7 linked regions of the Homo sapiens genome follow. The protein of the gene in region 1 purifies or fractionates together with the protein of each later gene. This does not show direct contact. Each region holds a gene or a part of one and is shown in the gene's direction. Other genes may lie near its edges.

Region 1 (3,500 bases):
AACAAAAAGTAGATTTAACAAGGTACCTAGAAAACCAAACATTTCGTTTTGATTATGCCTTTGATGACTCAGCTCCTAATGAAATGGTTTACAGGTAGGTAAATTCATTTTAAATCAGAATTTTGTTCTTATGCCATGTGGTCATCAGCACCTTGAAATTTACATTGATTGTGGGATATTTCTTAAGAGGTGCAATATGCTGTTTTATTCTGAGTTTAAACAAAGAGAATGTAATAAATGCTGTAATGAATATTAACACTTGTTCTCTGTAATGCTCCCCAAAATCATAGTTTCCATTACTATTTGCTAATTAGCTTATTACACATATATATACATATATATACATATCACACAAACCATGTATATGGATAAGAAATTTCGGGAAAATGTTAACATTACCTCTAGGAATAGGATATGATAAGAAGACTTTTAATTTTTACCTTTTAATCTCTGTACTAATAAAGAAACTTGAAATGTTTGTTTGAGGCATGGTCTTGCTCTGTTGCCCAGGCTGGAGTGCAGTGGCACGATCACAGCTCACTGCAGCCTCGACCTTCCAGGCTCAGGTGATCCTCCCATCTCAGCCTCCTGAGTAGCTGGGACCACAGGCATGCACCACCACACCCAGCTAATTTTTGTACTTTTTGTAGAGTTGAGGTTTCGCCATGTTGCCCAGGCTAACCTCAGACTCCTGAGCTCAAGTGATCTGCCCGCCTTGGCTTCCCAAAGTGCTGGGATTACAGGCATGAGCCACTGTTATGCCTGGCCAAAATACCTGTTATCAGTTAATTATTAATTTATCTAAATCTGTATTTAGTATGTATTGTCACTTAAGGCGAAAAAGTTCCGTACTTGTATTTAAATTTGTCATCTTTAAGCTTGGAGATAGTTTTAGTACATGAGATTCTTGTATGTTTTCTGTATTCAACTTAAAAATAATTCAAATTTATCTGTGTTATACATTGGTATCTCAAATTTTTATGCCAGATTTAGATTTTCATACGTAAGTTTGCAAACATTCATTTCTAATAATTATAACACCAGTTTTAGCAGTATTGTTATTTTGGTTTATCTAGGAATATTACTGTCTTTGTAATTGCTTGAATACTATATCTGATTGCCCTTTTTCATAAAAATGCCTAGAAAGGAAAAAATTAGAGTTAATGAGACTAAGAATTGAAGGTGTTACAAAGGAAATACTTTTGAGACCAACTCTTTTTGTCTTCACCAAGTGTACTGGGTAGTCAGTTGTAAAAAAAAAAAGGATCAAATTAAAGGACATATGAATACTAGATAGAGATATTTGTGAAGAATATGTTTAAAGGGGAATCATAATTGTTAATTGTAGAATTTTTTTTTAGCTTTCTGAAGAGTCCACTTTTCCTTTTCATTCCCTCTTTCTACTCCTGCCTCATAAAATATAAGTTTGACTTTTATAATAGTTTTTAAGAAATTATTACAAATACAGGCATGTTTCTGTGTGTATGATTTAGTAAACATTGTGTTTTTACCCTATGTTTATGTTTCTTAACTTTATCAATATTTATCCTTCTCCTCTATCTCTTATACTTAACTATTATGGATTGAGGAGTTACATGTTTTTTTGTGGGTAGGGTTGGGAGGTAGGGGTTTGATCTACTTAGCAGGCTCATCCCTAGTTCTGTTTGACCAGAACTTTTTCCTGCTCCTTTTGTTCTGTACTTTCTTCAGTTTTGCCTTTTACAAAACAAAACAAAGACAGCAGTTATATAAAATGTTCTACTTGTAGATCTGTTTTCCATCTTTTTTTTTTTTTGTTTTTTTGAGGCTGAGTTTTGCTCTTGTCGCCCAGGCTGGAGTGCAGTGGCATGATCTCGGCTCACTGCAACCTCTGCCTCCCAGTTCAAGCGATTCTCCTGCCTCAGCCTCCTGAGTAGCTGGGATTACAGGCGTGTGCCACCACGTTCAGCTAATTTTGTATTTTTAGTAGAGACGGGGTTTCACCATGTTGGTCAGGCCGGTCTCGAACTCCTGACCTCAAGTGATCCACCCACCTCAGCCTCCCAAAGTGTTGGGATTACAGGCATGAGCCACCACGCCTGGCCTCCATCATACTTTTTAGTGTACTGCTCAGGGGAAAAGTACTTCTTATACCTTCCCACCTTTTTATTTTAACTCTAGCAGTGGGTTATACCAATACATTTGAAATATAATTCAAGGCCGGGTGCGGTGGCTCATGCCTGTAATCCCAGCACTTTGGGAGGCCAAGGCGGGCAGATCGCCTGTGGTCAGGAGTTTGAGACCAGCCTGACCAACGTGGTGAAACCACGTCTCTACTAAAAATACAGAAATTAGCTGGGTGTGGTGGCAGGTGCCTGTAATCCCAGCTACTCGGGAGGCTGAGGCAGGAGAATCACTTGAACCCGGGAGGCGGAGGTTGCAGTGAGCTGAGATCGCGCCATTTGCACTCCAGCCTGGGGGACGAGAACGAGACTTCGTCTCAAAAAAAAAAAAATGTAATTCAAACCATAATATTTAGGTATCCTTTTCCTAAATTGAGAGTGTCAACTTACTAATAGAATTCATTTTCCTACAAGCACAATTTATATTCTTTTTGCTTAAGTATAAATTACTTGTCTAAATTCAAGGTAATCAACATTTTTCTATTTATTTAGATGGTCTATAGATAATATTTTTGCAGTTTTTTTCCTCTATTAACTTTTTAAAATTGAGATTACCACTCTTGTTTATTCTGTTTCTGTTGAAATTATAATACTTTGTGTTTGTTTTTATTGTATATGCCTTATTGTGACCATTATTTATTATGGAAATATTGCTTGAAATTATGCTTTAAGTAGTTTAAGTAATTTTAGCATATGATATTTAAAATTCTTAAATCAATTCTTCGATATTGTTATTTAAAATTTTTAACAAAGATTTGTTTAGAATCTTGCTATTAAGTTTTATTTATTAATAAAATACTTTGTATTACTCAGCATTACTATTATTCATCAAAATATTGGTGACACATTCTGACTGATGCATTTTATTTTTAAGGTTTACTGCTAGACCACTAGTGGAAACTATATTTGAAAGGGGAATGGCTACATGCTTTGCTTATGGGCAGACTGGAAGTGGAAAAACTCATGTAAGTAATTTATTAAAGTTACATTCTGGTACGAAGCTACAGTTTCTTTTCCTTATAGCTTAATTCTGTGAACTAAATTCTTAAGAGTTATTCCTGAGTAATGTCTGTTCTTTATTTTCTTTTTAAAATATAGACTATGGGTGGTGACTTTTCAGGAAAGAACCAAGATTGTTCTAAAGGAATTTATGCATTAGCAGGTAACTGTCCTTTTTCCATAAAATTTGGAATATTCTTCTGTGGTATTATTCAGGTAACTTTGAAATAAGGCTTTAAAATATTGTTCAGCAACTATAATGCTATATTAACTGTCTATTATGTCAATTATAGGTTATTAGATTGCTTGAAAAGAACTATAAGATTATATATTCACAAT
Region 2 (3,500 bases), on another chromosome or scaffold:
GAGGAGACAGTGGGTTGAAGCCCATCCTTTGTTGGGGCAGGAGAATTTCTGTGTATCAGCATCTGAGCATAACAAAGAAGAGGGGGTAGAATTCCTGCAGAAGGAAAGCACACATCATATAATGCCTGGCTGTTTCCCTACTTGTCCTCTGCTGTCTCCCTCATAGAGCAAGCTTGGGAAGTCTTGTTCTGAGCCAGTGCTCCATAGTCATTGGAGACACAGACCTGCAGGCATGGGAAGAGCTCTGGGTGCTGTGCGCCTGGGAGCAGTCCCCTCCCCTGTCACACCACGGTCGTCCAGGAGGCAGGACTGGCTGGGGTGAGAGACTGCAAAGCCCTTTCTACAGAAACCATGAGATGCTGAAAACCCGCAGTCCTCTTATGAGCTCTTTGGTTTGTGTCTGGTCTGTCAGTGAAGGTCCACAGGTTGGCTTGTACTGGCAGGGAAGACCTTCAGCAGAAGCCTCAATCTGAAATGGGGTCTGACGTTTTTGGAAGTTTTAACTGTTCTCTCCCTCTCCTGCATCAGGAACAGGGGATTAGTGCTGCCAAGATTGAAGGAAGAAAGTAGCTGAATTAGAGGACTTCCAGGGTTTGGTTCAGCAGTTTTTGGGAAGCCTAGCACTAAGCGGTTGGTGGCAGAACTTCCTTTATTTTTCTGTTAACATAGTCCCTTTTGTTTTTTTATGTGTGCAGTTAAAAGAAATGTGCCGTCGGGAACTCGACAAGGCAGAATCTGAGATTAAAAAAAACAGTTCTATCATTGGTGACTATAAGCAGGTAGGTTCCAGTACCCTGGGATTGGGCTGTGTAATCTGGGAGCCCCTAGTCTGGATAAAATGTATACCCGCCCCCCACCCCCAAACCCAAATGCAAGCACCCTGGTTTCAGATCCTGGCTCTGCCCCTGCACTGACAAGTGGCTTCACTTATTCTCAGTTGTAAAAGAAGGAAAATCATCCCTGCCTAGGAAGGTTGTTACGAGGATTTAAAAAGACCATGTTTGTAGAGTGCCTGGCAGTGCCCAGCACATAGTAGGTACTTAAAACCACAGTATGTTTTGGTATGTATTTCAGATTCAGAATTACGAACTTTTGTTTACGTGTAGTTTTAAACCGGTTATTTCCCTGACTGGTTGAGTTTTAAGAACATAACAGAATGGTCTTGTTCCCTCCTACACTAGGATCTCTTGCTGGCTCATGAGTCTGGCAGGTGTTCAGAAACCATTGGCCATTGAGTGTGGTGCTGCTTGGTTTCTGCAAGTCCTAGGCCAGTGAATGCAGAGGCGGCATAGCTAGAAGAACCCCTGCTTATCCATCGACTTCATATCCCCTCCTGAGCGGTAGCAGGCTATTTGCTACTATGTTAATTCCAATTTACATATTCCAGCTTCCACTATGGAATTTATGCAGATGATTACAATTGCTCAAGAGATTGTTGTTTTATATTTGTTTCTTTAGATTTGTTCTCAGTTGAGTGAAAGATTGGAGAAGCAGCAGACAGCCAATAAGGTGGAAATTGAGAAAATTCGGGTAAGACTTCTCTTTACCTAAAAGATTTTATACCACCTACTTCATTTTATGGCTGTATAAACAGGTTTTGGGAGGAGGCAGTTGATTTCAAAAGTGAGAGAATCTAAGCAATAAGGCACCTGTCACAGGTCCTGGCTCAGTAGTTGACAACTAACACTACGCCTGTTTTCTCTGGAAGGGTGTACAGATGAAATCAAACAAGCTCTAGCTTTAGATCTCAAAGTGCAAGTGCCCCATGATTTCCAAATGTCTGTAAGGCAGTCGATGTCCGCAGTGTGATGCTGAGGAGAAGGAGTCATGCAAGTGATAGGTCTTGCTTGAGGTGGTGGGAGTGCAGAGGTCAGAATCATGTGCTGTGGCTTGTCACTTTCCAGTGTTGTTCTGAGTTCATGCCTTCTGCTGTAACACATCCAATTACAATGAGGACCTTAGTTTATTTTTATTTTTTTTTATTTTTAGAGACAGGGTCTCACTATGTTGCCCAGGCTGGCCTTGAAATCCTGGGCTCAAGCGAAATCCCTCCCTCAGCCTGAGCTGCTGGACTCCAGGTGGGCACCATTGCGCCCAGTTTAGAACTTTAATTGTTTAATGTTTTGTTGGCAGCTTAGGAGTTTTTATAACATGGTGCTTTCTTTCTTTAAGTTCTACCTGTATTACAGAACTTGTCAGATTTTACTAAGATAAGCAATTTACTGAAAAGTGCCTCACTAACATATTTACAGCTCAGAGGACAGGAACTTGGGAAAGTTCTGTGCTCATGGCTATGTTTGCGCAAAGCAACATTACCTAGAGCAGGATGACACTGGCCTTCGTCATAATTAATGTTTAACCAGATGTGTGTGTGTGTGTGTGTGTGTGTGTGTGTGTGTGTGTGTGTGTGTGTGTGTGTTTGAGACAGAGTCTTGCTCTGTCATCCAGGCTAGAGTGCAGTGGCGCCATCTCGGCTCACTGCAACCTCCGCCTCCCAGGTTCAAGCTATTCTCCTTCCTCGCCTCCCAGCTAGCTGGGATTACAGGCTTGTGCCACCGTGCCAGCTAATTTTTCGATTTTTAGTAGAGGTAGGGTTTCACCATCTTGGCCAGGCTGGTCTCGAACTCCTGAGCTCGTGATCCACCCGCCTTGGCCTCCCAAAGTGCTGGGATTACAGCTGTGAGCCACTGCGCCTGGCCAACCAGATCTGGTTTTTAAACAGAACTTATTTTCTGATTCTAAAACTTTAATATTCTTGCAGAAAATTTGGAAAAGAAGAGTAAATAAGGGAAAAAAGCCCTTATGATCCATTTTCCACATATAACATCTTTATTAATACTGTGGTGTGTATTCTTTCAGTCTTTGTTCAGTGTTTAACGTCTAAAATTTCATTCATTCTGAGATAAGCATTTCTTTTCACATTTACATCTCTGAAAGTCGGATGTTTTATAATTGGCTTTTTGTGGTTTAATTGGCAGAATGTTTTCTTAGAGGAACATAAAATGACATTTCTTACAGTTAATGGCATCTTATTTTGATGAAATGTGGAATACATTTTATTTGTAATCATAGTTTATGTACATTTTTGTGTTCTATTTCAACCAGCATGCATCCATTTTCCAATGTTATAAAAGTTCCTCAAAAACCTTTTAGAGGCTGTGTACTTCCTTGTATAAATATAGCACAGTATATTTAATATTTAATTGTTTTTGAATAGTTTATCCCCTGCTTTTTTGCCTGTCTCCAGTTCTACAGTGAAAATTTTTGTACATAAATTTTTATCTAGTTACAGCTTCATTTTTCAGCCTGGGTTCCTAGAAGTGAGATTACTGAATCAAGACAATGATAATTTTATTATTTTTGGTGTATAATACCAAGTGGCTTTTCCAGTAGGTTATCTGCCAGTTTACAAAGAGCACAGGTTTTCAGAAACTGTAGTGCTCAACAGAGAAGCCGTCTCTTGGTGTCCCCCAAAGGAGATGCTCACACCATCCTAAAGG
Region 3 (3,500 bases), on another chromosome or scaffold:
TTTTATTTTTAGTTCTGGGGACAAATAAGTTTGGTATGGATATCAGGACCAGCCTTCTCATCCTCCTGTGTGTTTGTTGCCTGTTGACTCTGGAAATTTGTAGAAGGAGGAGGTATATTATTTGATTCTTTCATTTTCTGAAGTGAAAGTCATTGTAGTTAAAGATAGAAGGGAGGGAGAAATCTTTAGTATTGGGTATCTTACTTGTAGTTCAACCTCCTTTTCTTCTAAGTTTTCTATAAACTTAGAGATATAACCAACATTCTTCCTTCCTCTCTTGTTGGTACTCCTTTATATATTTCTGACTTGTAGGAATGGTGGGATCTAATAATATTGTTAGAAAAATGAGTTGTAGAGTGAAGCTGCCTGAATAGAAAATTATCCCCTCTCATTCTGACATCTCATTTTGCTTCTCATTTTTGAAGTGTAACTACCTATGCTGGTTTACAGTCTTTTTTTAAATGAATTTAAAAGTAATGTGTGTTCATTAAAGAAAATTTTGAAACTAATGAATAGCAGAAAGAGAAAAGTAACTAGAATAAGTTTAATAGTTAGGGACCTTATTTTTAGCTTTTATTTAGAATTACTAAAGTACATATATTAACTACTTTTAGTTAAAACTAAAAAATTTGTTTTATAATATGGAATTTGATATGTATATCTTAGTCATGCTTTTTTTTAGGTAAAAATTTTGCACACTGATTTGAAGTTTAGGAAGAATTTCTTGATTTGTAGCTTTGAGACACGAAGGACATCCTATTTCATATCAAATAGGATATCAAAGGGCTTTTTGGGGGTTTATGGGATATCAGGGAGAACATAATGCATGATTTAGTTTGTAGTTTTAAAATCTAGGATATTATTGAAATTCAATTGATGAATTTTTGAATTCATCATTTGAGTTTTGAATGTTAGATATTGGATTATCATACAAATTTTTGTTAAGTTTTCTGTTAAATACTTTTTTTTTAGATGAAGTCTGAGAGAAAGTGAGTGATGTGTACATTTGATTTTTTTTTTTTTTTTTTTTTTTTTTGGAGACGGAGTCTTGCTCTGTCACCCAGGCTGGAGTGCAATGGCGTGATCTCAGCTCACCGCAACCTCCGCCTCCCAGGCTCAAGCCATTCTCCTGCCTTAGCCTCCTAAGTAGCTGGGATTACAGGCACCTGCCACCATACCCAGCTAATTTTTGTATTTTTAGTAGAGATGGAGTTTTGCCATGTTGGCCAGGCTGGTCTTGAACTCCTGACCTTAAGTGATCCGCCCACCTTGGCCTCCCAAAGTGCTGAGATTACAGGCATGAGCCACTGGGCATGGCCACATTTGATAAATTTTAATAAACTGATTAGTAATCAGAAAGTAAGGGGTAAGGCATTAGAAGTGGCTATAGTGGTTTTTATAATTATCTTAATATTTAATACTATAATACATTTGTTTAAAAATTCTTTCTAGCCATTATTCTTTTAGCACTTCATATGCAGATACATATGTATACCTGTTAGTACATTGTCTGCATTACATGATGAAATTCTGCAGTAGTAACTTGATGTAGACATTGGGTATATATAATATAAAAACTCAAGTTGTGTTTATTTCAAATGCTGTCCTTTTTAATTAAAATTTAAATTTTAGTGTTTAGATTTTATTTGAGAGGCTGGAAATATAAGAAAATGAAAATCACATTTAGTATATTTTTCAAGAAAAGAGTTCAGTTTATGAATTTTGGGTGTCCCAGCTCCAACTGAACTTCTGAAACATACTAGAAAAAATTTGCTTCAGTAATAATACATGTTTTTATTTCTGTAGCCTATGAGGTAATGTCTTAGAAAAAAAGAAAAAGTTTTGCAAATTATTTCCACTTTTTGACCATCAAATTTATTACTAAAACAAGAGACTAATAATTTCTTACTGTTCTTTCTGTGGATTAAAATAAGAAAATATTCAGACTTCTTAGATGAGACATCTCATTCACAGACTTTGGTAACTGACAGATTGAAGTTAAGGTTTCTAATTTTCTGTATTTTATATTTTTGTACTGTAATTATAATTGGATTTTAGGGTGAGTTTTTAATAATAAAGAGATGATAAAATTTATGCTAGTTTATCATGTTTATTCAGTGTTTTTCATTTAGATTACTTTCAAATGTTTGTAGTGATCAATAAAAAGGTAACATAAATAATGGGTCATTCCAAATTATTTGAATAGAAAATTTTTGATAAACTAAAAATGAATTACAAATTGAATTTTGTCACTAATCCAAATTTAGGTTAACAAAAATTTACTTTTGTTTATATTCTTGTTCCAAATCTTATAAAATGCCATTAATTATTTTCAAAACATGGGAAGTAGTGTATGCTAAATATAATGTTTATATTTTATAATTGAGTACCTTGGAGTACTTTAGTCATTTTGAACATCAGCTCTTTCTTTTTTTTTTTTTTTTTTTTTAAGAGACAGGACAGGAGAGTCTCTCTCTCTCTTTTTTTTTTTTTAAGAGACCCTTGCTCAGGCTGGAGTGCAATGGTACAGTCATACATAGCTCACTGAAGCCTTGAACTCCTGAGGTCAAGTTATCTTCCTGCCTCAGCAATTCTTGTTATACGTAATATAGACTAAAGCGCCTGCTCTAGAAATTTATCTTCAAAAATGAAACAAAATAGAACAAAGGTTGTGATTTTAGTTTATCTAAAATGTGGAGTTTCCTTCCTCTTGCCACCAGATCAGAGAAAAAATTTTGTAATGATATAAGTTGATTGAGATTTTTTATGGCATTTTGCGTAGGAATATATATTGCACAACTAGGCAGTTATCCACATTTATTATCCCTGAACTTTGAATTATAATTTTACATATGATGAGGCTGGCTAAACTTTAATGGTATTTTTTATTTTAGAAACCTAGTAAATACATATTTACATTTGTAATTACTTGCTGTAATCTTACATTGAATCAGTTGTATTCTGTTTCGTGTATTGTGTCCCCCCCCCCTTTTTTTAATAAAGGAAGCACTGTGACTGTTTTTATTTTAAAGACTTTTTTTTTTTTTTTAAGAGCAGATTTAGGTTGTCCCCTTCTGCCACACATGCATTGCCTCCTCCATTATCAACATCCCTCCACCATAATGGTAGATAGTTATAATTGATGAAGCTACATCAATACATCATTATCATCCAAAGCTGTGACTTCTTTTAGTAATAAAAAGAAGTTTCAAAAATATTACACTTTTGGAGATAATATCCTGTCATACTGAAAAGCCAAAATGTAACATTCATGTATCATATTTTTTTCTTAGTTGAATACGGTATAGGATTGTTATGAAGAGAAGATAAAACTTTTGAATCATTTTAGAAGATAATGGTAGTATTACATTGTTTCCTTATGTAGTTTTTGTACTTCTTTTGGCTTGGTACCTAATGATTATCATATAGATTGAGTGTAGCTGTTTGAGGAACTACTATGTTTTGGATTATTTTCTTTGAGATAGTAAAAATACTTAACA
Region 4 (3,500 bases), on another chromosome or scaffold:
ATTAAATTAGTATTAAGTTCTTTTTTAAAAGTCCTGGTTGAACTAAGATTGTAGGCAGACATTACTGTCACATGTGGTGCAGTCTGTTGACTTTTATATATTTTTTAAAACCTTCAAATGTAAAATCTTGAGATAAAAGCAAATGTTTAACAATTGGGATTTTTATTAGAGTTTAATACAAATAATGCATAGTTTTTCTAAGTGTACGTTTTACATATTCTCAAAGGGTTCTATTAGATATAAGTAACATGATGAAAACTGAACATGATTTTAGACGTTGATATCTAGTAGGGTTTTTTGTTTATGGAGATCTTATATTTTACATTGTGAGCTATGGATTAGGTTTTTCAAGTGGCCAGTATGTTTTAAAAGAATGTGTTCTTAACAAAGCTTATCTTAAATTGTTTCCTTAAGATGCCTGTGTGTTACTAGTGAGGTTTTTTTCCTGCAGACACACACAAGCTAAGACATATGGTTCTATCTTCAGAAAACAATATGGTGTTTAGAGCCTAGGTAGGTCTTTAAATATTCATTACCTACAGTATTACTAATTTATTTGATGGTATTTAAAGTGGCAAGAATTGCTTTGATGTTGAGCCTAAATTTCTATTTGTCATATAGTTGCTTTAAAGGTCTGTTTTCTGATGTTCTTCATTCTCATTTGACATTTATTTTGGGGTATTATGCATTGAGTAACTTGTGATCTAAAAAAACAAACAAGATCATGCTGTGTAATACTGGTGTTGGAACTGGACTGTCTGACACCTGCCTTGTGGGACACACATTTCAGGCTTGGGTTGTGTGTATCTTTGTAGTGCAGTGATTTGATCCATGGTATATCTGAATCTACAATATGACACTAAATTGTAATAGTGTTTTATTGTAGCTTATTTTATTTTCTTCATCTATCGGATGCACCAAAATTGCTAGGAATTCGTGTAATACCATGTTACACAATCCCTTCCTTTAAGGCTATTCTTTCTTCCTGGAAATAAGCTAATGATTTAGAGTATAATCTGAACATCTAAGAACAAAGCAGAAGAAAATTCTATAAACTATTACAAAATTGACTGGCTATACCATGGATTTGGCTATACTGTGGCTATAATCAAGCCCCTCATTCAAATTCAACTTAATCATATTCTTTGTTTCTTTAAAGTAAGAGAGAGAGAGTGAGTGTGTGTGTGTGTGTGTGTGTGTGAGAATATCTCATATATATAGTTGGTCAATTTAGTTGTACCTCCTGCAGCTATCTTCCATCATGCCTCCTTCCTAAAATGAAATACTGTACCGACAAATTGAACAATTAATTAGAGATCTATTGAAGGATATTATTGCAAAATCTCTTCTTGTATAGGACTTGTCAAGAACAAAAGCAAAACTATTATGGAAATTTAGCTATAGTTTTTTGTGTGAAAGTGCTGATAATTTCAGCCTTGGTAGGGCTACTCTTTTCAGAGTGAGAGCACATTCAGTGTTGAAAAAGTGTCATTAGTCTTCTGAAAGGCATGATATTCTTAACTTAAAATTCTGCCCAGTCGGACACAGGAAGTAGTTTGGCAATGTGAATTTCTGCCTACTGTGAAACTGCTAAGTTTTTAGCCCCAAATTGGATTTTAACCCTGATATTAGAGATAAAGGTGTCATTTTCAGTTTTTAATGCTTCAGTTCCTACAGTTCCTGTTCTTAGAAGACAAAATAGACTCTAAGGTATGCCTCTTCTGAATTTTTTCGTTGAGTTAAAAATCATTTTGGAATTTCCTAAGTGTTTACTCTTTGAATTGACCTCTCAATACAAAAATTAGAGCCATTTATCTTTTTTCTGTTATTTTGTGTATGTTCTTTAGGTAGCAATTATATATTTAAAGACTTGGATCTTTAGCTTGACTATTTCATAACCAGAGCAGAAAGAAAGTGAAGTGTAGAAGCTATAATTTGGAACGAATAAAGATGTCATTTCAATGAACTACCAAGAGATGATCTTACTAGGTCAGGCATTGAACTTTGTCTTAAATATTTTTGTTAGTATTTACTTTGGGACAGATTATTTTATGATACTGTAAAAGTACTTAAAATAGAATAGTACAGTATTTTAAAAGCTATACAATACGTCTCTCAAGTGTTATGATGCACGAAGGCAAATGTAAATGAAGAGGCAATCTGAAATTTGGGTACAAGAACTCAGTAAAAGAAAAGGCAGTCTGAAATTTGGGTAAAGTTTAGGTGAAATTATATAGTGAATCATGGCCTTTTAATCCTGGTAAATTAAGATATTGTATGTGTTGTTATGGAAGGCCTTTCATGTTAGTTTTTGAAATTTAGTTTGCTGCTTAACATTTAACTTTTAGTGGAGATAATTTGAAAAATAGGAAACCTTAATACTGGATTTTTAAATAAATATTTCATGACATTCTAAACTTAGATATTAACGTTTTCATCTTTGCTTTCAGTGCTAGAAATGTAAATTAATATATCTAAATATGCCTCTAGAAATTCTTCAAGATCTGTAACTGGCGGGAAATAGGTTGACTTAGAATAAAGATTTTTTTTTTTTTTTCAGATGGAGTTTCGCTCTTGTTGCCCAGGCTGGAGTGCCATGGCGCGATCTCAGCCCACTGCAACCTCCACCTCCCGGGTTCAAGTGATTCTCCTGCCTCAGCCTCCCCCAAGTAGCTGGGATTACAGGTGCCCGCCACCATGCCTGGCTAATTTTTTGTGTTTTTAGTAGAGACGGGGTTTCACCATGTTGGCCAGGCTGGTCTTGAACTCCTGACCTCAAGTGATCCACCTGCCTCGGCTTCCCAGAGTGTTAGGATTACAGGTGTGAGCCACCACACCTGGTGGAATAAAGATCTTATTAAGCAGTGACGGCTTTTTTTGTGACTATTAGATATAGAAGGTAACTAATTCCAATACAGTTTTTCCTGAAGAAATTGATGTTTAAACAGTAATGGAAATTTAAAACTATTTAAATCATTTAAAATGTGTTATATTAAAATGATAATTCTATTTTAATTTTGTTATTAGCTAGCTTCAATATGTGAAAACCAGTTTTATCCATCCTTCTTTTCTCTTAGAAGTGAGCTAACTAGCCCTTTAGGCAAGGAGCATAATGTTTAGAAGCTCAAGATCACTTGTTCGTTTCTTTCTTTCTTTCTTTCTTTCTTTCTTTCTTTCTTTCTTTCTTTCTTTCTTTCTTTCTCTCTTTCTCTCTGTCTCTCTCTCTTTCTCTCTTTCTTTTTTATTTATTTTTTTGAGATGGAGTCTCACTCTGTCGCCCAGGTTGGAGTGCAATGGTGCAATCTCGGCTCACTGCAACCTCTGCCTCCCAGGTTCAAGCGATTCTCCTGCCTCGGCCTCCCGAGTAGCTGGGATTATAGGTGCGCGCCACCATGCCCGGCTAATTTTTGTATTTTTTGTGGAGACAGGGTTTCACCATGTTGGTCAGGCTGGTCTCAAACTCCTGACCTCATGATCCGCCTGCCATAGCCTCCCAAAGT
Region 5 (3,500 bases), on another chromosome or scaffold:
TTAGTTTCCTTTTCTTTTATGGATACAGATTTTATCTCAACTCTGACTACTGGTTCACAGTTTGTCTATGAGAGAGGGTGAGTAAAAGAAGGATTAACTTAGATAATCCACTTTTACCAGAAAAGCAGCTCATAATACATGTTCTCCTGAGGCCTGTAGTTATCATCTTCAAAAGGGAAGGGTGCCTTAGTTCATGTGTGCTGTTTTGAAAAGTTCATGTGTGCTGTTTTAAATGGCAGGGCATACCATTTAAAAAGTCTTCATTAAAGATATGCTATAATACTTTAATTTTTTAAAAAGTGTGTGTGTGTGTGTGTGTGTGTGTGTGTGTGTAGGGGATAGAATGTGAAAGTTCAGTGGACTGGAGTAAACTTTGTCTGTTTCCAAGGTAGGTCTTCAGGTCTTCTCTGGGTCTCAGTCTCGATTCTGTTATCCTGCTCTGGGCAGTTATTCCAAATTACATGATTATTTGCTTGGCTGCAGGCCAGAGTTGCCCATGTTGGTATGTCAAAAAGCCTTTGAGAAAAGCAAAAACAAAATAGCCTATTTTTTTGCTTCTAGTTTGGTTATGCTAAAAGACAAGTTACATCTCATTCCTACCCTGCATACAACTAGAATATTTTTGTCATTCGGCATTAGAGATGTCGTGTCACTAATGTAGTATAAACTGATTAGAATTTTTTCAAGCAGGCTTAGGGTTTTACCTAATATGCTGTGTATTTTTTTGCCTTCATTCTCTTTGTGATGGTAACTAATATGCTGCATTTAATATGCTTGTAATTATTCATTGGAGAGTTTATGTGCATATGTATAAAGTTATTGTTACTTGGAGTTTTTTTAATTGGTTATGATCTGAACCATATTGTTCAAGTGGGAAAAGTTAGGCTTTCAGAAAAATCAGTAGTTTTAGCTCTGAAAAAGCAAATGAAGTTTAATTTTTAATTGACAGAAAGAAAGAGAGAGGGAAAGAAAGAAAGAAGAAACAAAGGATGGGCATTTATTATGTTTTCTGTGATAATCTTTGAAGCAGTTATCAGTTAAGCCCAAGTTAATTTTTCATTTTGTTTTTGTTGGATTTGGAAGTTTTATAGTTTAATGTCTCAGGTTGTAGAAAACTTTGCAGTTATTTGTCCCATGGCGTACTTTATGGAATGCTTTCAATTCTTAACTACTATTTAATAGATGTGAAAGTTTTGACTTGTAATTTTTTAAATTTGTGAAAACAGGCTCTTGGATTGAGGAGATGATCAACAATCGAAATAAATCAGTTGTTCGCAGTATGAGCTGGAATGCTGACGGACAGAAGATCTGCATTGTATATGAAGATGGGGCTGTGATAGTTGGTTCAGTGGATGGTAATGTATTGATTGGACATAGAACTAAGATCAATATCTGGCTGACAGTTTTCTTCTTTAGAGATTTAAGTTAGTTACCATATGTTAGCATTCTGATTGAAAAATAGACATAAAAGGGAAACTATTTGATATACAATTTGACGACATTCAAGAACCGTTCTTTGATTTTAACCATCTGTTTTTATGTATATTCAAGGAAATTTTTTTATTTCCTACAGTGGCATTGAAAAAATTGAATTAACTTTTCAGCATTATTTTAAACATGTCTGCCTCATTATGTAATTTCTTTTTATATTGGTTAGTCTGTACAAATATATAGACTTTAGTTTCAAAAAGTCTGTGGTCGTTTTTATTGGAACTGAATATGTCATTGTTGGTTGTAGTTTATAGCCTTAAAAACCTGTATTTTTCAAATTCTAGTAATAGATAAAACTGGGTCTTCTGAGAGTCTGCACCTTTGTTTTAATTTGAAACTCTGTAGATAAATAATTTATTTTAAAATCATTTTTATTTCTCTCTCTCGCTCGCTCTGTGTGTGTGTGTGTGTGTGTGTGTCTGTGTGTGTGTGTGTAACTTCATGTAGTCAACAAATGTTTCTGAGAGCCTATAAAGCAACAGCTATCATTTTAGGAACTAAGGGTACAGCAATGACCAGACCTAGATCAGGAGAGATGGATGAGTAACTGAGAAATTACAGTATCCTGTGATAAGCGCTAAGATGGGGAAAATACAGGAGCATGTAGAAGTGCCACCTAATGCAGACTTGGAGGGATCAGGAAAGGCTTCCTGGAGGAAGTGATGCTGATGCTGAGGCATTAGCCACAAGGTAGGTTGGTGTGTAGAATGTCTCTGCCCTAAGAAGTAGTATTTGAGGAGGTCCAGAGGAGTTGCACTTAGCTATGTTTGGGCCATTGAAAAAAGTTGATTATCAGTAGGGTATAATACTAACAGTGAAGAGTAGTATGCAGTGAATCTAGAGAGAGAAACAGAGGCCAGATCATGCAGATCATAAGTTATATTAAGGTGTTTGGACTTAAGTCCAACAGCACTTGGGAGGCCAATGAAAAGTTTTAAGAATGGGAGCAATGTGATAAGATTGTTCTTTAGAAACATCTCTGTGCTACATATGAAGAATAGAGAAAGGAAGGAAAGATAATGGGCAGCTGTATCAGGAAACTGCTCTGGCAATTCAGGTGAGAGATTATGGTGGATGGTAGCCATCCAGGTAATGACAAGGGAATGGAAGTAAGTAGATTTTATACATACTCAGGAGGCAGAATAGATAGGATTGGGGATGAGAGGATGGAAGTCCCCAGGGCAGTATCCAGAGTTTTAGCTTGGGCAGCTGGATGGATGGTAATGCCTTTCATTAAAATAGTGTGGAGAAAGATTGATTTTAAGGGAAAATTCCTCTGTTGGATATGTTGATTTTGTCATGCCATAGGCCATTCAAGTAAATCTATCCAGACCATAGTTAGACATACATATCTGCAGCTCAAAAATGTCTGTGCTGAACACAAAATTTTGGGAACCACCAGCATATGCATGGTAATTTAAACCATTGAAATAGTTGAACAAAACTAAGAGGCATTTGTAGAGTTAAGAATCAGCAACATTTAGGCTGGGGACAGTGGCTTATGCCTGCAGTCCCAGCACTTTGGGAAGCCAAGGCGGGAGGATTGCTTGAGCTCAGGAGTTTGAGACCAGCCTGGACAACATAGCAAGACCTTGTCTGTGCTAAAAATAAAAAAAAAACAAAACAAATTATCTGGGCGTGGTGGCATACTCCTGTAGTCCCAATCACCTGGGAGGCCAAAGTGGGAGGATTGCTTGAGCCTGAGAGGTTGAGGCTGCAGTGAGCCATCATCTTACCACTACACTCTAGCCTGGGCAAAAGAGTGAGACCCTGTCTCAGGAAAAAAAAAAAAATCAGCAACATTTAAGGGATAGGCAGAAGAAGGATGTCGAGAAATATAAGAGTCTTAGAGATAAAGGAGTATATGGGCTAATGGCAGCCAAGAGAGTTCAAGAAGGAGGGAGTGGTAAAAAAAAAAAAAAAAAAGTATCAATTGGCTTTAGCAACAGGCCATCAGTGACGTCCATGAAGGCAGTTTCTTTCTTTTTTTTAAACAACAGAAATTTATT
Region 6 (3,500 bases), on another chromosome or scaffold:
GAATTGAGTTCTCTCCACTCCCACCACCACCCAAATATACACTTTAAATGCACAATTCACGTTTTCAGAATGATAAATGCTTTGTCTGTTAGCTTCCCTGGTAGATTGGTTGGAGCATTTTCTAGAAAGCTTACCAGCACCTGGTGTATTCGGAAACTCCTGTTCCCACCACAGCATAATCCAATGCTGCTGTAATAGATTAGAGTGGGGGTCAGAGGCCCAGGAGTCCATCCATGGAAGAAGGTGGTTTTTGGCCAACACAGGTTGGTATGGATTATCTGAAGGATCCCATGGACTCTAGTCCCTTGTGGTTTCTTACTGTTTATCAGCATATGCTCACCTGCCCCATCTGGCAACCCTCATCTGACCATCTGGAACAGATGCCCATCTGTGTTTCTCAGAAATGGACTCATTCTCCACTCCATTTGCAGCTGATAAGCACTTTGGACAACAAGCAAGAGAGCTTTCCTCAAACTCAGTTCCTGTTCCCTGCTCCCCCATAATGTTTATCAGTTTGATAACTACTTTATAAGTGATTGTGTGAGTGAGGGCAGCTACCTGAAGCCATTATAGGCAAAATTACCTACCATCTTTCTAGCCTCACATTTGACTCCAATTTGGAGAACAGCATACAGATTATAGAGGGAAAAGTACTGCGTTAGACCTGTCTTATTTTAGAAATAATAATTAGTATTGTGTCCTTCCCCAATATATCCACAATTACTTTTTAAAATAGGAAAACTTAACATTTGTATAACACAGGCAAGAGTACTTTCATATCATTCTCATTTGAACTTCACAATTCTAGGGCAAAAATCACCTTTAAATATTCGCTCTCACTTTAGTAACTTTATTGCCAAGTCTTGTTTCTGAGACCTTGCCATTGGAGGCTCCTGCTTTCTGTTCTAATTACAGAAGATAATGCATTTCTTCCCCATACCCTCTCTTGCCTCTGCCTGAAGGCACAGGGTGTGCAGGGGCCCCTTTTTAGCATGTGGCTAGAGACCCGAAGCAACTGAACCCCCAGAACAGATGCTCCCTCATCTCAAGGAAGCAGTGAGCTCTTTGAGGATCTTGAAAACAGATTGAGAGTCTCCAGGGCCTTGATTTTTTTTTTTTTTAATCTACCTCCTCCCTTCCCCTTTAGAAATAAGTCACGTTAAGAGTATTTCTTCACGGCTAACCTTTGCTCTTTTCTTTCCTCCATTCTTTCATGTCCTCTAGGTGTTTGTAGAAGTCTATAATCTGACTGCAGACCCAGACCAGATCACTAACATTGCTAAAACCATAGACCCAGAGCTTTTAGGAAAGATGAACTATCGGTTAATGATGTTACAGTCCTGTTCTGGGCCAACCTGTCGCACTCCAGGGGTTTTTGACCCCGGGTAAGTTTCCTTTCTCTTCATTTACTTGGCCAAGTTTTTTCTAGTAGACATGCTGTTCTTGAAGGCAAAGGGAGCCCTTTTTGCTGTGAGATGATGATTCTTCTGCTTTAGAGGGAATACTGTGTTCTAATTGCATCAGCCCGTTGTGCTGGGAAAATCAAGCTTTTGAAACTTTTGTTCTCCACTGCCAGTTGTTACTTTAGCCAGAGGTACAGCCCTGCTCCCCACCAAACATGGGGCTCTTGTTATTTTCGTGCTGTGATTATTGTCATGGTACCACTTGTTTGCATTGGTGACACTTGGGGCTTCTTTAAGTAAGCTGCGACCCACTGCTGCCCTGTTCACCTGTTCCCTAGAGCTTGCAAGAGTATATGCCTTCATTTCATTTCTCAGAAACCCCTACTACAGAAACTTGAATGTTTGCTGGTGAATTTAATATATTAAACACACAATGAAAATAGAAGGTGTAAACTCAGATGTTGAAATATATAAGCCCATTGCACGATATGGAGGTATAAAGGATGTTTAGCTGTCACCTGCTATGTCAGATTTGTTCCCCACACGGTCCTTCTTAGTAACTTTTCAGCAGTAACACTGGGTGTCAGTACACCATGCATTTGAGCTGCTGGTGGCAGGAACCTTGTCATTTATCTTTTGCTTGAAGATCATGAAGTTTAAAAATCAAACTTTCACTGGGAAAGGAATATTTTAGTTCCTACCTTCAGACTGTAAGAGAGGGAAGAATGATGTCCTAAGTTGATGGAAAGTTATCACTTAATTTTTTAGCCGTCTTTGTATTAAATTTTATCTTTAGTCCAAATTAGAGACAAATGAATGTGAATGAGTAGAAAAACTCGATGATAGACTGTTCATTGTTTGCTTTTAAATAATGTATATAGTGCCAAAGTGGCATGGACACCAGTAAACTAAAGCCAGGTAACAATATAAAAAGATAATATTTATTATTTTATATCACTTAAATGAAATAACTGTTTTTATATGGATAATCCCATTAGTACAATAAGAATGGTCAAGAATTTTGACCATTGGTCTTTCCTTTGGTCTTTCCTCCAAGTTAGTGAAATAGATCCTAGCTTGGTACCAGTTACCTGAAATAGGAAGTCCAGTCCCTAAAATAAAAGCACAAGACTTCCAGTTTACATGTGCTGACTTTGCAATTTCCAACAGTTACTTAGCTCAGAATGTTCTTTTAAACCAAATTAAGTTAGATGTCGATAGCAGTTAATGTTTTTTAACCATGTACTCCCTGGCTGACTCTGGGAACTTAAAGCCAGCATCTGATTAAATCTTAAATGGAGGGTCAAGGGACTGGACCTCTTGGATTATGATGTGTGGCCAAACAGTCCCTGACCATGCCACTGCTAGGACATGGACCTGCCAGGCTGGCATCTGGTTGGCCAATGCAAGGTAGATGGAGCCAGCTGTCTGTTTCTTCTGAACATCTGGCTCTAAGTGTTAGAATTCATAGAATTTCCACACAGCCCTTAGAGCCCAAACAGGTAAATTTCAAATGAGGAAACTGAGCTTGCAGTTGTGATTTGCCCAAGGGTCACCCTATAAGGAAGTGAATACGTTATTTCCTAAGCAAGTTTTGTTTGGTTTTTAACTGCAACAAATTGTCTTCCTCACATTTTAGAAGCTTATAACTAAAGTGCTAGATGCTGGCTTTGCTGATGTTAGCATGAACTACTTAAACTTAACCTGATTTTCTGTTTTAAATTCCTTAGCCCTGATTATTCCTTTCCTATCAAACATTTGGGCCTGTTAGCCTGAACTACTTAAACTTAACCTGATTTTCTGTTTTAAATTCCTTAGCCCTGATTATTCCTTTCCTATCAAACATTTGGGCCTGTTGAGTCCTCCAAAATGGGGTCATCAGACCAGATCCTGTGAGCCCAATCTAGCCCCACCTGCGGGAACACAGCCTCACACATTCGTTTACCTGGTTTTGGCTGCTTGTGTGCTTCAGCAGCAAAGGAGAATGGTTGGGACAGAGACTGTATGGCTCCCATACCCTAAAATATTTATTATCTGGCCCTTTACAAAAAATCTTGGTCAATTGCAGTTCTAAAATGCAGTAGTCCCCCCTTATCC
Region 7 (3,239 bases), on another chromosome or scaffold:
GAATAGTGTTTGTCCACAGAGGAGCCAGACTTGAATTTAGGACTGAGTGTCCAGCTTTCAAATAAACACTTTTTGCCTGTTGTAGGTGTTCAGTAAATGTGTGTGGAGGAACAAAGCGTAAATGAGAGTGGCCTTTTCAGTGTAAAATCACTTAGCTCTTTGATCCCCTTTTACTTGGTTAATCTTCACTTTAAGAGCTATTTATATGGTTAAAGAACTTACTAAACAAAACATTCTTGGAGTTATTTTGATTATCTCCAAGTTTCTCTTTCTTACATTTTCACCAGTTTGTAGGTTCAGTGAATACTCTTTTCAGGCCAAAGGGCTTACCTTTAAAACCTCACCTACCACACACGTTCAGCCTAGTACCTTGCAAGATGAGTCAGGCAGAGGTGAAAAAGCCCTTCCCTGTTCCTGTATCTTTGGATACGGAAACAGGCGTGAACGTTGCTGAACGTGGACCCTGTAGTGAGTAAGAGCTGTTTGTTAGTGACTGAAGGTCGTGGTGTGTTGTCTGTAGGAAAGTGTCTTACTATTCCACATCCCTCATTTGCATGTGGGGAACAGACAGCCATGGAAGAAAAGAGATTTGCCCAAACTAAAATAGGGGGAGCCACAGCCAAGACAAGAACTGGCCTGGTCACTGGTCTCTACCGCTTTGGATCATTGCTATCTCTGAGCATGGACAAGTTGACTGTAGAGAGCTTTAAAGGCTAAAAATATAATTGGTATATTAAAAAAAAAGTAGAGAAATAAGGTGAACATGATTATGATTGTTAAGACAGTCTCAGGGGAGGTGTTAAACAAGTTCTTAAAAATTGAGTAAAGCACCTCTCACTTGACACCAAATGGATAATAATAATGTTAGGTGGCACTAAATGTGGCTCAGATTAATACTAAACAGCCACTTTTCTACTGGAAGAAAAATGAGGCAACCTAATGATGACCAAGGGAAATTGTGAACTGTCCATTACTGAAGATAGGCTTGGAGTGGATCGCCCTCATGGTTTGGAGGGATGCTTTTTGTCTTGCCTTAGTGTTGGCGTGAGAACAGATGACCTACTAGCTCAGAGTCGGCTGTGTGGCTTTGAAAACAATGGAAAGTAATGACACATGGACTTTTCAAAGCAAAGATGTTTTTTAAAAAGAGACCAATAAACAGTGTACAGAATTGCCTGGCTGAAGGTTTGGGTGTAGCTACTGGTGTTTGCTAACTGAGCTTTCCCTCATTGTGGGATCACTGCATAAATCTGACTCCAGATTTTTTCCACTGATGTGATTTTAGCAGTTTTGTGAAAAGAGAACAGGATAGTTTTATGTTCCTAACACTGCTTTCTAAATTTCTAAGAGTGCCCTGATTCCTTGGTGGACACCGTTCACTGAACTTAGTTTGTCTTGAAGTGGCCTCATGTTGATAGGATAGTCACACTTTTACACTTCTTGGGGCAGCTGTAGGGACTTAATTGGATTCAGAGTAATCCACATGTGACTGCTTTTCGAAACCGTGCCTTCATTTCTGCAGGCAGCAGCACAGGGATGCTTCAGAGCTGGTGCGTCCTCCGAGCTCACACGAGCTCATTTGGTAGCACGAAGTGGCCACAGGCACGGCAGCTGCTCAGCTCCTTTGTCCAGCCTGGGTCCCAGGACCCGCACTTCCTTGGATGCATCATGAGGGCTTCTGTTTCTTTCCTTGTGGTTTCAGGTTGAGTGTGTTTTGAGTTTTACTAATTATGTCAAGAAGAAAAAACACACTTTTTACAAGCTTGGTGGGATGGGGAGCAAATTGAGTGTCAGAGCTCCTAAATTCAAGAAACTGACTCAGTAAATTTGGTTAAACTGTGGAATTATCATTTGAGGTCATTAAAAAAATAAAGCAAAAAACTACCTTTTCAAAATATCCGATGAAGAGAGCTCTGGGAGAGAACTCAAGTCCTCGATGACTCCCTCTCTGCATATTAGAACATGGAACCCGCAGGGGTGATAGCATGAGAGCGCTGGAGACAGGGTGCGCAACCCCAGCCTTCTGTTTTGACTTGAACCAACAATGGAAACTTTTCCCCCCTTTCATTGCAGGTGTCTCTCCTACTACAGTCAGCTGCAGCTCCTCCCTGGGAGATTGTCAAGTGCTGTTAGTTCACATGCGCCACCTAATTAGTGGAAGTCTTTTGTTTTCCTCCCATTTTTGATAACAATCGCAGAGGGGCAGTGCCCTCAGGGATCCAGGTGGGCTGAGTTTCGCCTGATGGTGCTTCTGTGCTTACTTACCTTTCTAAGTGAAATGATTTAGACTTCAGAAACATTGGAACAGTTGGCAGTTGCTGTAGACTTTTCTCAGCAGAATCAATTAATGTTGGCCTGATGTTAGGTACGTACAAGTTTGATCTCATTTGATCCTGTCATTTCAAATATTTTAATGCAATTTATTTTTTAACTAGGTACATGTGAAGATTTTTTGGCAGCTTAGCGTGGAAACCATTGATCACCCTGCTCTCATTTCTACCTGTTCTGTGTTGGCAAGGGAGAGTGCCCAAATGAGCAAGATATCGCAGCAAAACAGCACTCCAGGGGTGAACGGAATTAGTGTTATCCATACCCAGGCACATGCCAGCGGCTTACAGCAGGTTCCTCAGCTGGTGCCTGCTGGCCCTGGGGGAGGAGGCAAAGCTGTGGCTCCCAGCAAGCAGAGCAAAAAGAGTTCGCCCATGGATCGAAACAGTGACGAGTATCGGCAACGCCGAGAGAGGAACAACATGGCTGTGAAAAAGAGCCGGTTGAAAAGCAAGCAGAAAGCACAAGACACACTGCAGAGAGTCAATCAGCTCAAAGAAGAGAATGAACGGTTGGAAGCAAAAATCAAATTGCTGACCAAGGAATTAAGTGTACTCAAAGATTTGTTTCTTGAGCATGCACACAACCTTGCAGACAACGTACAGTCCATTAGCACTGAAAATACGACAGCAGATGGCGACAATGCAGGACAGTAGACCTCACCCTTTCCAGACTTTAGAGCTTGTGGCTTGAATGTTAAAGGTGTGACCACCGACACCACTCATGTCAATGGCTGAAAGTTGTCCATTTCCATGACTCAAAGACCCATTGGAGGCTATTTTCTGGGATCAGCACTGAAGAGTTGATTAGCTAAAAATGTTAGCCTTGTAATTCGAATATCTGGTTTTAAATGATAGAGGTTTTTGTGGGAATCAAAATCCCCCAAATGTTAAGGTATATGGTAAAAAAAG

The links.
Region 2: the proteins of KIF2A (region 1) and RABGAP1 fractionate together in Homo sapiens (co-fractionation; one large-scale study listed by BioGRID). This does not show direct contact.
Region 3: the proteins of KIF2A (region 1) and MTF2 purify together in Homo sapiens (affinity purification with mass spectrometry; one large-scale study listed by BioGRID and IntAct). This does not show direct contact.
Region 4: the proteins of KIF2A (region 1) and TIAL1 purify together in Homo sapiens (affinity purification with mass spectrometry; one large-scale study listed by BioGRID and IntAct). This does not show direct contact.
Region 5: the proteins of KIF2A (region 1) and WDR35 purify together in Homo sapiens (affinity purification with mass spectrometry; one large-scale study listed by BioGRID and IntAct). This does not show direct contact.
Region 6: the proteins of KIF2A (region 1) and GNS purify together in Homo sapiens (affinity purification with mass spectrometry; one large-scale study listed by BioGRID and IntAct). This does not show direct contact.
Region 7: the proteins of KIF2A (region 1) and CEBPG fractionate together in Homo sapiens (co-fractionation; one large-scale study listed by BioGRID). This does not show direct contact.

The regions. Positions count from the first base shown.
Region 1 is NC_000005.10:62,358,206-62,361,705, forward strand, and holds part of KIF2A (kinesin-like protein KIF2A), read left to right. Parts: coding exon 1-94; intron 95-3,036; coding exon 3,037-3,127; intron 3,128-3,260; coding exon 3,261-3,324; intron 3,325-3,500. UniProt on the Homo sapiens protein: Plus end-directed microtubule-dependent motor required for normal brain development. May regulate microtubule dynamics during axonal growth. Required for normal progression through mitosis. Required for normal congress of chromosomes at the metaphase plate.
Region 2 is NC_000009.12:123,098,020-123,101,519, forward strand, and holds part of RABGAP1 (rab GTPase-activating protein 1), read left to right. Parts: intron 1-695; coding exon 696-779; intron 780-1,458; coding exon 1,459-1,530; intron 1,531-3,500. UniProt on the Homo sapiens protein: May act as a GTPase-activating protein of RAB6A. May play a role in microtubule nucleation by centrosome. May participate in a RAB6A-mediated pathway involved in the metaphase-anaphase transition.
Region 3 is NC_000001.11:93,120,783-93,124,282, forward strand, and holds part of MTF2 (metal-response element-binding transcription factor 2), read left to right. Parts: intron 1-3,500. UniProt on the Homo sapiens protein: Polycomb group (PcG) protein that specifically binds histone H3 trimethylated at 'Lys-36' (H3K36me3) and recruits the PRC2 complex, thus enhancing PRC2 H3K27me3 methylation activity.
Region 4 is NC_000010.11:119,590,465-119,593,964, reverse strand, and holds part of TIAL1 (nucleolysin TIAR), read left to right. Parts: intron 1-445; exon of another isoform or gene 446-513; intron 514-1,847; exon of another isoform or gene 1,848-1,989; intron 1,990-3,500. UniProt on the Homo sapiens protein: RNA-binding protein involved in alternative pre-RNA splicing and in cytoplasmic stress granules formation. Shows a preference for uridine-rich RNAs.
Region 5 is NC_000002.12:19,976,606-19,980,105, reverse strand, and holds part of WDR35 (WD repeat-containing protein 35), read left to right. Parts: intron 1-1,226; coding exon 1,227-1,355; intron 1,356-3,500. UniProt on the Homo sapiens protein: As a component of the IFT complex A (IFT-A), a complex required for retrograde ciliary transport and entry into cilia of G protein-coupled receptors (GPCRs), it is involved in ciliogenesis and ciliary protein trafficking.
Region 6 is NC_000012.12:64,717,907-64,721,406, reverse strand, and holds part of GNS (N-acetylglucosamine-6-sulfatase precursor), read left to right. Parts: intron 1-1,224; coding exon 1,225-1,385; intron 1,386-3,500. UniProt on the Homo sapiens protein: Hydrolyzes 6-sulfate groups in N-acetyl-d-glucosaminide units of heparin sulfate and keratan sulfate.
Region 7 is NC_000019.10:33,376,709-33,379,947, forward strand, and holds part of CEBPG (CCAAT/enhancer-binding protein gamma), read left to right. Parts: intron 1-2,435; 5' UTR 2,436-2,531; coding exon 2,532-2,984; 3' UTR 2,985-3,239. UniProt on the Homo sapiens protein: Transcription factor that binds to the promoter and the enhancer regions of target genes. Binds to the enhancer element PRE-I (positive regulatory element-I) of the IL-4 gene. Binds to the promoter and the enhancer of the immunoglobulin heavy chain.